Regions from separate parts of the Homo sapiens genome. Here region 2 is linked to region 1. A link means that fine-mapping ties the variant in region 1 to the expression of a gene that starts in the linked region. Tissue or cell type: whole blood. Region 1 holds a variant in brackets; the other region holds the start of a gene. All regions are shown on one strand. Distances are between the middles of the regions.

Region 1 (8,000 bases):
GTCCTACTCCTCCGGCCTCTTCCTGCTGGCCGCCCTCAGCCTCGACCGCTGCCTGCTGGCGCTGTGCCCACACTGGTACCCTGGGCACCGCCCAGTCCGCCTGCCCCTCTGGGTCTGCGCCGGTGTCTGGGTGCTGGCCACACTCTTCAGCGTGCCCTGGCTGGTCTTCCCCGAGGCTGCCGTCTGGTGGTACGACCTGGTCATCTGCCTGGACTTCTGGGACAGCGAGGAGCTGTCGCTGAGGATGCTGGAGGTCCTGGGGGGCTTCCTGCCTTTCCTCCTGCTGCTCGTCTGCCACGTGCTCACCCAGGCCACAGCCTGTCGCACCTGCCACCGCCAACAGCAGCCCGCAGCCTGCCGGGGCTTCGCCCGTGTGGCCAGGACCATTCTGTCAGCCTATGTGGTCCTGAGGCTGCCCTACCAGCTGGCCCAGCTGCTCTACCTGGCCTTCCTGTGGGACGTCTACTCTGGCTACCTGCTCTGGGAGGCCCTGGTCTACTCCGACTACCTGATCCTACTCAACAGCTGCCTCAGCCCCTTCCTCTGCCTCATGGCCAGTGCCGACCTCCGGACCCTGCTGCGCTCCGTGCTCTCGTCCTTCGCGGCAGCTCTCTGCGAGGAGCGGCCGGGCAGCTTCACGCCCACTGAGCCACAGACCCAGCTAGATTCTGAGGGTCCAACTCTGCCAGAGCCGATGGCAGAGGCCCAGTCACAGATGGATCCTGTGGCCCAGCCTCAGGTGAACCCCACACTCCAGCCACGATCGGATCCCACAGCTCAGCCACAGCTGAACCCTACGGCCCAGCCACAGTCGGATCCCACAGCCCAGCCACAGCTGAACCTCATGGCCCAGCCACAGTCAGATTCTGTGGCCCAGCCACAGGCAGACACTAACGTCCAGACCCCTGCACCTGCTGCCAGTTCTGTGCCCAGTCCCTGTGATGAAGCTTCCCCAACCCCATCCTCGCATCCTACCCCAGGGGCCCTTGAGGACCCAGCCACACCTCCTGCCTCTGAAGGAGAAAGCCCCAGCAGCACCCCGCCAGAGGCGGCCCCGGGCGCAGGCCCCACGTGAGGGTCCAGGAACACGCAGGCCCACCAGAGCAGTGAAAGAGCCCAGGGCAGACAGAGGAACCAGCCAGTCAGACAGGTGGGGAGCCGCCGACAGCTTTGTCCTTAAAAACCCTGCTGAGTCCGTCAGGCCTGGAAGGAGGACTTGAGGGAGGGGAAACAATCCAGCCAGAAGTCTCAGGCAGTTCCATGTCAGCGACCCCTGCTCCCGGCCATCAGCCTTTTCTGTGGTTGCTCCCAACACACACACAGTCGCCCGACAGCCCCCAAACCGCAGCTAATGGCATCTTGCGGGGTACTGTCCCTCAACACCCCAGACCCCGCTGACTATTCTTCCCTGGGCCTCAGTCCTGCTGGAGGAAGACAACAGGGGGCACTTTCCCCGGGCTTGACCTGACCTCCCTTTGGTCCTTCCCTCCCTCTCCTCCTCCGGGCCTGGACACAAGGACGTGAAACAAAAAAGTCCCTGAAGAGAAGGGGGCCTCCCAGGAGCCACCAGCCCCAAGCAGGAGCCTAAGGCCCTGGTGAACCACAAGCTGGCCTGGCATGGCCAAGCCTGGTCCACTAGTCCCCTTCCCCCAACAGTCATTGAGGCTGGGGCAGGGCCTCCCTCAGCAAGGCGCCAGAAGAGGCAAGAGCTGCCTAGCCTGGATTCAAATCCAGCTCTGCCATGTCCCAGCTGAGCGACTCTGGAGGAGCAACTTCACCTTCCGAGCTCCCGTGTCATCAGCTGTTGAGAGGATGCAATAAGAAAGTGTGTAAGGCATTACAAGAGCCTGGCGCACGCAGGGGCCTGGTGAACTAGCCTTTCTTCTCCTTCATCCACATACAGGATGTCCCTTTAGAGGCTGGGGATGGATAGAGGAGGCAGTGGGGAGAGCCACCACCTGGCCCAGGCATCTGGGATCTTGTGACCTGTCTGGGCCGTAGACACCCAGGTGGCCTAAGACCAGGAGGCCGCCTCTGTGCCTTGGGGGCCTGCAGGGGACTTCAAAGTCTGATTCTATTTAAAAGTTCAATTAGCATCCACCTGCTCCCCACCTCCCGTGGAGGGCTGCACAAGATTCTTTGTGGGGGCTGCAGGTACAGAGGGCCCCGATCCTGCCTGAATAACAGCCTCCCTCTGTCTGAGCCCAAGTGCACAGATAGGAAGTTGTCCAAGCACACAGAGCTCAGGGCACCAGTGGGTCTAGGAAGGGCAAAGGCAAAGACGGCCGGGCGCGGTGGCTCACGCCTGTAATCCCAGCACTTTGGGAGGCCGAGGCGGGCGGATCACAAGGTCAAAAGATCAAGACCATCCTGGCCAACATGGTGAAACCCCGTCTCTATTAAAAGTACAAAAATTAGCTGGGCGTAGCGGCGCACACCTGTAATCCCAGCTACTCGGGAGGCTGAGGCAGGAGAATTGCTTGAACCCGGGAGGCAGAGGTTGCAGTGAGCCGGGATTGTACCACTGCACTCCAGCCTGGCGACAGAGCAAGACTCCATCTCAAAAAAAAAAAAAAAAATTAGAAAGGGCAAAGGCTCCCAGAGGTCACACAGCTTCTCTAGGGCAGAACCAGCTCTTCCCTCTCAAGCTGCTGATGCTGCAGAAAAAACTAGAAGTGCTGAAGGTCTATCTTCCAACCCCCACTCCACTTCCCTTTTCCTACCCATCGTCCTCTCCTGGCACCCACCCCACCTGCGTTCTCCTTACCCCCAGTGTTCCAGTCATGCCCCCTTATCCCATTAGCTCAGTATCGTGACCTTCAGCAACTGAGACGCCCTTTCCGGCAGGTGTAAATGACAATGATGTCAGATGTGCAACCCTTCCCAGAGACACCTGCATTTTCCAAATGCAGCAGGCTGTGCAGGCAGCCTAGAGTGATACAGTCAGGTCTGGGTTCTGGTTCCTAACTTCCTTCCTCTCAGCCTGTTTTCTCCTCTGTAAAATGGAGTGATCATGTTCCCCTTGCAGGCTTGGCAGTTCTGATCATTGACTGAGCCCAGGGATGGGAAGTGCTGTGGGCGGTGGTGGTGGTGATACCAGAAGCATAGTCGTAGTGATGGAATTGCGGGCACTGAGGCCCATGGGAGAGAGATTTCTGGCCAGGCATGCATTTATTGAATTCATTCATCCAGTATTTCTTGGGCACTCGCTAGATGCCTTTCTGGCCAGCCTTCCATTCTGGAGCCACTTGGGTGAGGTTAAGGGTTTGCCCTCTTGGCTGGGCGCAGTGGCTTACGCCTGTAATCCCAGCACTTTGGGACCCTGAGGCAGGCAGATCACAAGGTCAGGAGATCGAGACCATCCTGGCTAACA[T/C]GGTGAAACCCTGTCTCTACTAAAAATACAAAAAAAAAAAAAATTAGCTGGGCGTGGTGGTGGGCACCTGTAGTTCCAGCTACTCGGGAGGCTGAGGCAGGAGAATGGCGTGAACCTGGGAGGCGGAGCTTGCAGTGAGCCGAGATCGCACCACTGCACTCCAGCCTGGGCACACAGAAAGACTCTGTCTCTAAAAAAAAAAAAAAAAAAAAAAAAAAAAAGAGTGCACTCTCTGGTGACCATCAGGGGTTGTTTGAATCCTGGCTCCACCACTCACAGGCTGTGTGACCTTCCACAAAGCTCTTAGCCTCTTTGGGACTCAGTTTCCTCGTCTGTAAAATGAGGATCATAATAATGGTACCCATCTTGCAGGAGCGTGAATCCCTATGAAGTGTTCGTGATTGTTAGCCATTAATTTGATGACAGCAGTGGGCACCCCCCGGTCTCACTCAGCCCTGGGACCAATACTGAGCCACAGGCCAGCGCCTGAGTGGCAGATCGCCTGCCCCCCAGGCCTCCCCACCATGGCACTGCCTCCTGTTCCACAAGGGAAGTTCTCACCCTCCCCATCCCACTGCAGTCCACACTCTGAGCGCAGGGCCTGGACTTCGGTCCCCATTAGGGCACTCCGCAGTGCCCTTCTCCCTTTTTCTGGGCAGGGCTCCCAGGGCCTTTTCAGCATGGCAGGCAGATTGGGAAATAAAACCTCAGCATCAGCCACTTGCTTTCAGCTCTGGTCCACACTCCAAACCCTACCTCTTGGGGAGTGGGCCAGTCCCACGTCCAAGGACCCCAAAGGGAATCCCACCCATAATGCGTGATTTCTGTCCAGAAGAAAGAGCAGCAGACCATCACCCTTGGTCAGCCAGAGCAGCGGATGCTCAAGAAAGGAATAAGTGAGGTAGCTGGTACCCCAAAGCCGCCAGCCTGAGGGAGGCGGGGCAGACTCCACCTGTGGGACAGGATGGGGTAGAATGCCTGAAGGGTTTTGCGGAATAAAGAGGAGTTCTCAGGCCAGGCACGGTGGCTCACGCCTGTGATCCCAGCACTTTAGGAAGCCAAGGCAGGCAGATCAACTGAGGTCAGGAGTTCAAGGCCAGCCTGGCCAACATGGTGAAACCTCATCTATACAAATACAAAAAATTTGCCGGGTGTGGTGGCGCATGCCTGTAATCCCAGCTACTCGGGAGGCTGAGGCAGGAGAATTGCTTGAACCCAGGAAGCGCGGGTTGTGTAAACCCCCGAGGGGTTCGCCTTGCCTGCTGCCTAGACAGAGCCAATTCACGCAGAGCCGGCTGTGCAGGAGACTGCAGTTTTATTCTTACTCAAATCAGACTCCCTGAGCATTCTCAGGGAGCTGAGTTTTTAAGGATAACTTGGTGGGTGGTGGGAAGCCAGTGAGCCAGCGGTGCTGATTGGTCAAGGATGAAATCAGAGGGAATCAAAGCTGTCATCTTGCACTGAGTCAGTTCCTGGGTGGGGGCCACAAGATCAGATGAGCCAGTTGATTGATCTGGTGGTGCCAGCTGATCCATCAAGGGCAGGGTCTGCAAATATCTCAAGCGCTGACCTTAGGAGCAGTTTAGGGAGGGTCCGAATCTTATAGCCTCCAGCTGCATAACTCCTAAACCATAATTTCTTTTTTGTTTGTTTGTTTGTTTTGTTTTTTTGAGACAGAGTTTTGCTCTTGTTGCCCCAGGCTGGAATGCAATGGCGTGATCTCAGCTCACCACAACCTCCGCCTCCCGGGTTCAAGCGATTCTCCTACCTCAGCCTCCCGAGTAGCTGGGATTACAGGCATGTGCTACCACACCCAGCTAATTTTGCATTTTTTAGTAGAGACGGTGTTTCACCATGTTGGCCAGGGTGATCTCGAACTCCCGACCTCAGGTGGTCCGCCCGCCTCGGCCTCCCAAAGTGCTGGGATTACAGGCGTGAGCCACCATGCCCGGCCCTAAACCATAATTTCTAATCTTGTGGCTAATGTTAGTCCTACAAAGGCAATCTAGTCCCCAGGCAACAGGGAAGTCTGCTTTGGGAAAGGGCTGTTACCATCTTTGTTTATAAACTAAGTTTCTCCCAAAGTTAGTTCAGCCTATGCCCAGAAATGAACAAGGACGGTTTAGAGATTAGAAGCAAGGGCCAGATGAGGTGGCTCATGCCTGTAATCCCAGCACTTTGGGAGGCCGAGATGGGCTGATCACAAGATCAGGAGATTGAGACCATCCTGGCTAACACAGTGAAACCCTGTCTCTATTAAAAATACAAAAAAAATTAGCCAGGTGAGGTGGTGGGCGCCTGTATTCCCAAATACTCGGGAGGCTGAGGCAGGAGAATGGCGTGAACCCAGCAGGCGGAGCTTGCAGTGAGCCGAGATCGCACCACTGCACTCCAGCCTGGGCGACAGAGCGAGACTCTGTCTCAAAAAAAAAAAAAAAAAAAGAGAGAGATTAGAAGCAAGATGGTTGGTGAAGTTAGATCTCTTTCACTGTCTCAGTCATAGTTTTGCAAAGGTGGTTTCCGTTGCAGTAAGCCGAGATCGCGTCACTGCACTCCAGCCTGTACAACAGAGCAAGACTCTGTCTCCAAAAAAAAAAAAAAAAGAGTTCTCTCAGTGGTCCATGGAGGAGGGTTTTGTGTTAGAGAAAATGGGCATGAAGGTGGGCTCAGCCCCAAGACATTGCCCAGCCACACACCTCCTGCCTACCACATCCCAGGGGACCAGTCTCCTGCTGCCGTCTGGAAGACTCACTCCTTCTCCGGTGAGAGATGCCCTTCCTTCCCTCTCCTTCATAGGTGCCAGACATTGATCCTGAGAATTGTGATTATGAGTATTGTTCAATTCTACATTCAGGGCTGCTGCTCATTCATTCATTCCTCATACATTACTTGATCCCATACTGAGTGTTGGATCTTGTTCAGGGTGCTGGGAATACAGTAGGAAGATAGGCAAAGTCCTTCCCCTCAATTTGCTGACATCCTGGTGGAGGCCGACACAAACCAAATACACCAATAAGCACCTGATGCAACATCAGGCGGCGCTGGAGAACACAGGCCGGGTGGTGGCTCACACCTGTAATCCCAGAGTTTTGGGAGGCTGAGGCAGGAGGATTTTTTGAGGCCAGGAGTTTGGAACCAGCCTGGACAACATAGGAGACCTCCATCTCTACAAAAATAAAAATTAGCTAGGCATGGTGGTACGTGCCTGTAGTCCCAGCTACTTGGGAGGCTGAGGCGGGAGGACTGAGCCCCAGAGTGTGAGGCGGTAGTGAGCTAGGACCGTGCCACTGCACTCCAGCCTGGGCAACTGAGCAAGACCCTGTCTCCCAAAAAAAGAACAATGCAGTCAGGACAAGTAAGACCAAAGAGTGGCTGGGTGAGGAATGGTCCAGGAGAGCCCTAGGAGGAGGTGATGTCTGACCAGAGACCTGAATCGAGTGGGGAAAGGAGCCTTTTTGGGATCTGAGGAAAGAGCTTCCAGATGGAGAGAACAGGATGTGCCCAGGCCTCGGGGTGGGAAGGAAGGTGGGTGGGATCTAGATGATCCTTCTAGCCCCAGGGTTTATAGAGCACTAGGAAAAGCAAGGGCTTTGGACCCAAGCCGATGGGGATTGCATCCGGCTGGATGACCTCAGGCAGGCACCGCACCTCTCTGTGCCTGTTTCCTCAATGGGGTGTGGCAATGGGAATGAGATGGGAGACAAGCCCGAGGTCACCCTCAGACACACAGTGGGGGCCTCTTTTAGCCAGAGACAAGGCTCCTGTGACCTCTGCTCTTCCCCCGCTTCGTCCTCCATCCATCTCTTTCTGGGAAAGGGAGGGTGCCATCGGTCAGCCAGGGCAGTGGATGCTCAAGGAAAGAATAAGGGAAGTAGCCGGTGCCCCAGAGCCGCTGGCCTAAGGGAACGGGGGTACATTCCACCTGTGGAACGGGATGGGGTGGGTCTGGAGAGGCCAGTCTGGGCTCCTTGTCACAGGCGCTGGCTAGAGAAAGAGAGAGGCCTGTGAATGGATCTCCAGGCCTTCGAGGGAGATGGTGGAGAAAAGAAGGCAAGGTGCAAGGGACTCACTGGCCATGGCCCCCTTTCAAATTGTAATAAGAAAGCTCAGCAGAATGCACAGGTGTTTACCCTGAAAAATGGGACTCCTGGGTCTTCCACTCGCTCCATAAACACTGCTATTTTCTGGATGGGCACGGTGGCTCACAACTGTAATCCCAGCACTCTGGGAGGCTAAGGCAGGAGGATTGCTTGAGCCCGGGAGTTCAAGAGCAGCCTGGCCAACATGGTGAAACCCTATCTCTACTAAAAATACAAAAAAAATAGCAGGGTATGGTAGCAGGCACCTGTAATCCCAGCGAATTGGGAGGCTGAGGCAGGAGAATTGCTTGAACACGGGAGGCAGAAGTTGCAGTGAGCCGAGATCGCGCCATTGCACTATAGGCTGGGAGACAGAGCGAGACTCCATCTCAAAACAAAACAAAAAACACACCAGCCTGGGCGACAGAGCAAGAGACCCCATCTCTACAAAAAGTAAAAGAAAAATTAGCCAGGCGTGGTGGTGTGTGTCTGTAGTCCCAGCTACTTGGGAGGCTGAGGCAGGAGGATCCCTTGAGCCTAGGAGGTCG
Region 2 (8,000 bases), 140 kb before region 1:
AGGGTGGAAGGTGAAGGGGAAGCAGGCACATCTTTACAAGGTGGCAGGAGAGAGAGAGCGATTCTCATGCCTCAGCCTCCCAAGTAGCAGGGACTACAGGTAACCGCCACCACACCTGGCTAATTTTTGTATTTTTAGTAGAGACGGGGTTTCACCATGTTGGTCAGGCTGGTCTTGAACTCCTGACCTCAAGTGATTCACCTGCCTCAGCCTCCCAAAGTGCTGGGATTACAGGCATGAGCCACTATGCCCAGCCTAGATAAATTTGAATGCTTTTCTCTTGCTCATGTCTTTAGTTCTCAGGCCCAGCCAAAAAACCCTAAAAGGACAGAGATAAAATTTTGCCTGCCCTACAGCATCTTACTGGCTTAGCTTCTCTGGAGAATCCTAATACAGTAGTGTCATTGCTTGCCTAGGATGCACCAAAACTCACAAGTCAGCAGGAAGCCAGGAAAGCCCCCATCCAAGCAGAATGACCCTCCCACCAACCTGGGCTGCTCAGAGCTACTCAGCTAATCCCCCAGGACAGGGAACTCCTCACATCCCTCCTTCCCAGAATCCCTCATTTCCCTCCATCCTGGAGTCTGTCCATCTGACAGGCACGTGCTGTGCCTAGAAAGCATGTTTCTATGAGACTTTTCTCCTTCTATATACACTGTGTGGTGCTCCAGGACAGTGACCATGGTTATTTCTCTTTGTTTCTCTCTCTCTTTTTTTTTCTTCCTCTTCTAGTTTGTGAGGTTCAGTAAACACAGCCAGGCTGAGGGCTCCAGGAAGCCACTGACTGTGCTGGAGGAGCTGTTTTCTAGTCCTCTGCTCTGCCCTCCCACCGACCTCGAGGCTGAGAACCCCTAAGCCCCGTCCCAGGAAACACAGTGCTCATAGTAGCTCTCTTAGAAATTTTATTGGTCCTGGAGAAAGGAAGGCAAACTCTGCCTCCCGCTCAGAGTCCCCCCAACCCTCACTGTTTCCCGTTGCCATTGATGGGGAGGTTCACGTACTCAGGGGAGGCCAGGAAGGCCTTGAGCTTGGGCCGGGCACTGAGGCGCCCCACATATGCTGAGAGCAGGGGGAACGCATCCAGGCAGCCAGGGGCTAGGACCTCATGGATCAGCAGCAAGTCCAGCAGGTTGTAGTCAGCGAAGGAGATCTGCAGGGCAGGGGGGCCAGGGACTCAGCCAGCGGGAGCAGGCTGGAGGAATTGGGGGCAGAGGGCCTAAGCCCATCCCCTAGGTCTGCTCTGCTTTGCTAAACAAATGGCTCACACCTGTGTCCATCTGGAAGCAGAGGGTGGCGAGGAAGGAACAGCATGGGGCCAGATGCTCACCTGGTCTCCCACAATGAAGGTCTTGCCTCCCTGGTTCTGGGACAGCAGGGTCTCAAAAGGCTTCAGTTGCCCGGGCAGTGCCTTCACATAGTCATCCTTGCCCGCCTCCTGCCAGACACCACCATGTATCATCCTACTCTCATCCCTCCCAGCCCCTGAGACACCCCCGTCTGCCCCAGGCCAGACACCAGAGTCCCAGATTCTCCTCTGCTTGCTCCCCACAACCAGGCTAGTACCAAATCCTGTCCACTTCAGCTGCCAACTCATCTCTATTCCATTCTGCCTGTCCATCCTTGCTGGGTTCTCTCACCAGATGATTGCAAAAGCTTTAGAGCTGGCTTCTCTGGAGGATCCTTCTAGACCTCACATTCAGACACAGCCCTGTTCAGACTTCTCAATGGCCCCCATTGCCCTTAGGAGACTCCAAACCAGTGGGTTCAAGGCCTTCGGGACCTGGGCCTACTGCCCGCCCATCTCTATCTCCTTACCCACCCGACACAAATGCAAGCGTACACACACACACGCACACACATGCACACGCACGCGCACACACGCTGCCTCTGCTGAACTGGTCCCAGGTCCCCAAATGTGCTCTGTGTCTGCATATTTTCCTCAGCTAAAAGTGCCAGCACCTCCATCCAGAAACTGGCGACAAATCCTCCTCCACCTCTGGCTACTCCAGGAAGCCCTCGCCACCCCAGGAGATCAGAAACCACCAGTTGCTGGAGGTCTCTGTCCTTGCACTCGCCCCCATGACCCGTTACTTGGCTGGTTGATGTCCCAGGCAATAAGGGTGCAGGTTGTGTCTTGTCCCAGGCCCCTGGGCCCCTGGCCCAGAGCTGACCCAGCCCCTGCACCCTGACCCAAGAAGGGGTCAGCCCAAGCCACCTGAGGGGTAAGGGGGGTGAGGGCACAAGAAGCCCCTTTCTTTGTTCAGCCCCCAGTGCCCAACCCTGGTGCAGATGCTCACATAGTTGGTGTAGATGAGGGAGATGTATTTGCAGCGGAGGTCCTCCACGCCGTCATTCACCATGTCCACCAGGGCTGCCTCCTGCTGGTCCTTCCCATAGAGCCCTGGGGTTGGGTGGAGGGGAGCAGGCCGCGTGACTGGGCGCCTGATCAACACACAGTCACTGGGGATGGGCCAACCAGGGGGCTGTCTGTGAGCCCCAGCCTGGGAGGAGGGGAAGAGGATGTGCGTGGAAGGATGAGAGACTGCCACACAGCAGGTGCTCAGAGCTCACCTGACACCTGGGAGGCAGCCTGGCACAGGGCAAGGATTGCAGGCACCCAGGCTTGACCTTGGGCAAACTACGTAACCTCAGTGGGTCTCAGTTTCCTCCACTCCAGAGGGCTGCGGGGCAGCTGATTTAAACAAAAGGGCTCCGGGGGCAGAGGCTTGCCCATGCCTGCCCTGGACTTGGAGGTTCAAGACTCACCAAGGGTGCGGCCCAGGTGACGCAGGATGGTATTGGACTGGTACAGGGTGAGGTCTCCGTCCTGGAACTTGGGGAGCTGCCCGTATAGCTGTTGGGGGAGGCATGGCTCAGGGAGGGGCACTGAGCTTGGGCGTCCCCCGATCCTAGTCACAGCCCCCTAAGGCCCAGCACCCCCTCCCCTTGCCCGGGCATGGTCACTTACGCAGGAGGCTTTGAGTGAGCCCTCCTGCCACGTCTCCACGGTCACCACCTCCTCCTTCCAGCTCTGGCCCTGATCTGCCAGCAGCATGCGCAGGGCCGCGCAGCGGCCTGCGGGGAGGGAGAAGTACGAGATGTGGGGACCGGGCCGACTCCGCCTCGCAGCAACCCGGGGAGGGGTCAGGAGTGCAGGGAGGGAACAGGGAAACAGGTTCCTCCGAAGATTTCACACAACACTGGGGCGGGGAGCAGGCATGGCGGGAGAGGCGGGGAACAGGAAGGAGGCCCGGGGTAAAAGCCACACGACGGAGGGATAAGGGGGTTCGGATCTCTCCGGGTGGGCGAGGGGCTGTGGGCTGCAGCCCCAGCCCCTGCCTCCCTTCCCTGCCAGACACATGCTCCTACCTCGAACTGGGAAATAGACCACGGTGTAGGGCGGCACTGCAGCGAACAAAGAAAAGTTTGCTGGAGCCCGGGGGAGGATGCCAAGGCGCGGTGAGCGCAGTCTGCCCCCCCTCCCCGCCCCCGGGGTCCCATCCCTCCCCGAGGCGCTCCGGGCCCCCTGAAAGCCGCTAACGGCACTGGGGACGTCCTGGGTCCCCTAGGCCCCCGTCCCGGGTCTCGAGGTGGGCGAGGAGCCCTGCCGGGAGCCCGGGCCTGATGCTGCGGGTTGGCCCCATGCTGGGAGCTCTGAGCCCCATCCCCGGGGACGCGGGCCGCGCGTACTCACTGGTGGCGAAGACTGCGGCGGCGAAACTCCAGCGAAGGCCTCGCGGCCTCCGAGCCTTATAAGGGTGGTCCCGCCCCGCTCCGCCCCAGTGCTGAGTCACGGCGCCGGCCGCTCTTCTGGAGGGTCCCGCGGACTCCCGCCGGCCCCAGCCCCGGCGGCCGCTGCACCCCGGGCGTCGGCCGCAGAGGGGCGCCCTGGAGTCCCCGGAGTCGCCGCGCAGCTGGCCGGGGAAGCCTTTCCCTCTTTCCCAGGTCCCCAGCGGGGCCTAGGGAGTAAACAGACAGCAGGAAGAGGACCGCAGCGAAGTGTGCGCAGCGAACTGGCGCGCCGGGACATCGCGGGGGGAAATTCCCTAAGACCGCTGCGATCCCGGAGCTTGCACACCCGCTTCACAGGGCAGGGGAGAGGGGTGGAGGCCGCTTAGAGGAAAGGAAATTGCTTTATTTTATTTTATTTTATTTTATTTTTTTATTTTATTTTATTTTATTTTATTTTATTTTATTTTATTTTATTTTATTTTATTTTGTGTTATTTTATTTTATTTTATGACGTAGTCTCACGCTGTGGCCCAGGCTGGAGTGCAGTGGCGCGATCTCGGCGGCTCACTGCAACCTCCGCCTCTCGGGTTCAAGCAATTCTGCTTCAGCCTCCCGAGTAGGTGGAATTATAGGTGCGTGCCACATCTGGCTGATTTTTGTATTTTTAGTAGAGACGGGGTTTCACCATGTTGGCCGGGCTGGTCTCGAACTCCTGACCTTAGGTGATCTGCACGCCTCGGCTTCCCAAAGTGCTGGGATTACAGGCGTGAGCCACCACGCCTGGCCGTCCAACTTTTATTTGAAGTTCTGGGGTACATGTAGAGGATGTGCAGGTTTGTTACATAGGTGTGTGCGCCATGATGGTTTGCTGTACAGATCATCCCATCACCCAGGTATTAAGCCCAGTATCCCTTAGCTATTCTTCCTGGTACTCTCCCTCCCCAGCACCCCGCTCAACAGGCACCAGTGTGTGTTGATCGCCGCCATGTGACCATGTGTTCTCATTGTTCAGCTCCCACTTATAAGTGAGACCATGCGGTCTCGCTGGTTTTCTGTTCCTGTGTGAGTTTGCTGAGGCTAACGGCTTCCAGCTCCACCCATGTCCCTGCAAAGGACATGATCACGTTCCTTTTAGTGGCTGTGCCTTAGGCTATTTTCTTTGGCTTTGCTGCCTACTTTCTGTTGATTTGCAGATCTCCATTTATTCTAGATATTGATCTCTTGTTGGCTTTAGACATGACAGACAGCTTCTCCTATTCCATCAACTGTCAAGTTTGTCCAAGGAGTCTTTCATGAAACAAAACTCGTTAATTTAAGTGTAATCAAATTCAGCAAGGGATTTTTGTGGTGGGGAAGAGGTTGGTGTTTATGTTGTATCTTTAAAACTTCATTTAATGCAGCCATTAAAAAGAACTAGATCATGTCTTTTGTGGGAACATGGATGGAGCTAGAGGCTATTATCCTTAGCAAACTAATGCAGGAACAGAAATCCAAATACTGGATGTTCTCACTTGTAAGTGGGAGCTAAATGATGAGAACTTATAACACAAACAAGGAAACAACAGACACTGTGGTTGACTCCAGGGTGCAGGATGGGAGGAAGGAGAGGAGCAGAAAAGAGAACTATTGGGTACTCGGCATAATACCTGGGTGATGAAATATTCTGTACAACAAACACCGAAGACACGAGTTTACTTATGTAACAAACCTTCACATGTACCCCCAAAACAGAAATAAAAGTTAAAAAACAAAGAAATTTCATTTAAAAGTCTTTTTTAAGAGACTTATTATCGGGGGAAATTCAGCCCCCAATATTTCACGTGGGTCCTTTCCTATTTTCCCTAAGTGTCGGCTGGCCTGAGAAATAAAGGGAAAGAGTACAAAAGAGAGACATTTTAAAGCCGGGTGTCCAGGGGAGACATCACATGTCCGCAGGTTCCGTGATGCCCCCTGAGCCGTAAAACCAGCGAGTTTTTATTAGCAATTTTCAAAGAGGAGGGAGTGCACGAACAGGGTGTGGGTCACAGAGATCACATACTTCAAGGGCGACAAAAGATCACAGGGCAGAAGGTCACGGCGAAACTAGAATCACTAATGAACTTCCAGGTCCCACTGTGCACGCACTGTCAGGGTTCAAGAGCAGAGAACCGGTCTGACTAGAATTTGCCAGGCTGGAATTTCCTAATCCTATCAAGTCTGGGGGTGCTGCAGGAGACTAGGGCGTGTTTCATCCCTTTCTACTTCTGAATAAAGGCAGGCACTCTCAGGGAGGCCATTTCAGTGGCCCGGCCCTGGGAATGCATTCTTTTCTCAGGGCTGTTAATTATTAATATTCCTTACTGGGGAAAGAATTCAGCGATATTTCTCTTACCTGTTTGCGGTAATAAGAGAAGTATGGCTCTGTCCTGCCCAGCCCACAGGCAGCCAGACTTTAAGGTTATCTCCCTTGTTCCCTGAAAATTGCTGTTATCCTGTTCTTAAGATGCCCAGATTTCACATTGCTCAAACACACAACAATTGTCCTCTACAAACAATTTGTGCAGTTAACGCAGTCATCACAGGGTCCTAAGGCGACATACATCCTCAGTTTACGAAGATGACAGGATTAAGAGATTAAAGACAGGCATAGGAAATCACAAGAGTATTGATTGGGGAAGTGATAAATGTCCATGAAATCTTCACAATTTATGTTCTTCTGCCATGGCTTCAGCCAGTCCCTCCGTTCGGGGTGCCTGACTTCCCACAACATGTATGTTGCCGCAGCTGGTCTGGAACTCTTGGCCCCAAGTGATCCTCCTGCCTTACTTAGCCTCTCGAATAGCTGGGACTACAGGCATGTGCCACCACACCCAGCTAATTTTTGTATTTTTTGTAGAGATGGGGTTTCACCATGTTGCCCAGGCTGTCCTTTTTTTTTTTTTTTTTTTTTTAAATTTTCACCAATGGACTGAGGTCACAAGGAAGCTTTTTAAATTTTTGTCACCTTGGGTTTTCTTTAATTTCACTCTAATTGTCTAGCTTTGGTGCTCTTCCTGGCTTGCCAAGCTGTCTCTCTGGTTTGGCCTCTTGGCCCTTCGGTCTGAGGTTGGTCATCTTTCTTCAGTTTTGAGAAATGTATCTCCATTGTTTCTTCTGAGATGCCCTCTTCTCCGTCTTCTTCCTCTTCCTCCTCCTCCTCCTCTTCTTCTTCTTCTTTCTTCCTTGCACTATCTGGAAAATGGCCCTTCTAATCTATCCTCCTATCACTTTACTGCCTTTTTTTTTTTTTAGACAGGCTGTCACTCTACTGCCCAGGCTGGAGTGCACTGGCACCATCTCAGCTCACTGCAATCTCTGCTTCCTGGTTCAAGTGATTCTCCTGCCTCAGCCTCCTGAGTAGCTGGGATCACAGGTGCCTGCCACCACACCTGGCTAATTTTTGTATTTTTAGTAGAGACAGGGTTTCATCATGTTGGCCAGGCTGGTCTCAAACTCCTGACCTCAAGTGATCCACCTGCCTCGGGCTCCCAAAGTGCTGGGATTACAGGCGTGAGCCACTGCGCCTGGCCACTTCGATGTCATTTGTGTTTCTTCTGGTTTGTCTTTCCTGGGAGAGAGTTCCCCAGCTGATCTCATCACTCACCTCTTCATCCATGAGTCGCATACCTCGTATGATTCATCCCATCTGTTGTTGGCTTTCTTCGATTATTGTTTTTATATCTACTCTTTCTTTTTGTTGCTTTTTGTAACTTCCTATTGCCAGTGCCTTCTCTCATGTCCTCATGATTTCTCTTGTGTGTATTCTCCGTCTGTGTGCTGCACTCATTCAGCGTCAGGGGATGTTCCTGTCCCCTGAGATGTCTCCCCTGGAACCAGTGAGCTTGTGCCCTTCCCTTGGTGGCACTGGTCATTCTCTCGGGTAGTATGCCAGCCTGTGGTTTCAAAGCAAAGGAAGGAGATAAGCACCACCAAACCACAGCCAACCTCTCCCCTTTGCTATCGCTCTTCAAACAGAGCTTGAGGTCAGAGTTTCCCCTTCCGAACCTTGGGAAGCAGCGCTGGGGAAGGTGGCTCCCCATGTTCTAATGTGCTGGTGCTGGGTGTTTCCAGGGGAAGTGTGGGAGGGAGAAAGCCCGCCCCATTCAGTCCCACTGTTCTCCCCAGTGCCTCACCCAGCAGAGGGTAGCAGAGGCTAACTTCGGTTTAGCCTGCACCAGGGTCAGTGTTCAGCAGTGACATCCCCTCAACAACTCCAGAGAGTACTAATAAAGGAACTGAATGCAAACTCC

What was found. PIP is the estimated chance that this variant, and not a neighbour inherited with it, causes the effect.
Region 2: it holds the start of GSTP1, and the variant in region 1 is fine-mapped to the expression of GSTP1 in whole blood (TOPMed, PIP above 0.99).

What each region holds. Positions count from the first base shown.
Region 1 is chr11:67,444,387-67,452,386 of GRCh38, reverse strand. GPR152 (G protein-coupled receptor 152) reads left to right here. Exons shown (of 1, transcript NM_206997.1): 1 at 1-1,086. The coding sequence ends at 1,075. Among named protein-coding and RNA genes, the nearest start is that of GPR152, 4.3 kb to the left of the region's middle. RefSeq lists an enhancer at 6,126-6,205. The variant T/C (reference allele first, on the strand shown) is at 3,374.
Region 2 is chr11:67,579,539-67,587,538 of GRCh38, reverse strand. It overlaps GSTP1 (glutathione S-transferase pi 1), which reads right to left and starts at 3,727. Exons shown (of 7, transcript NM_000852.4): 1 at 3,695-3,727; 2 at 3,370-3,405; 3 at 2,969-3,075; 4 at 2,767-2,854; 5 at 2,298-2,401; 6 at 1,328-1,435; 7 at 886-1,150. The coding sequence starts at 3,695. The coding sequence ends at 962. RefSeq lists an enhancer at 779-848 and silencers at 3,348-3,497, 3,815-3,957, 3,508-4,127.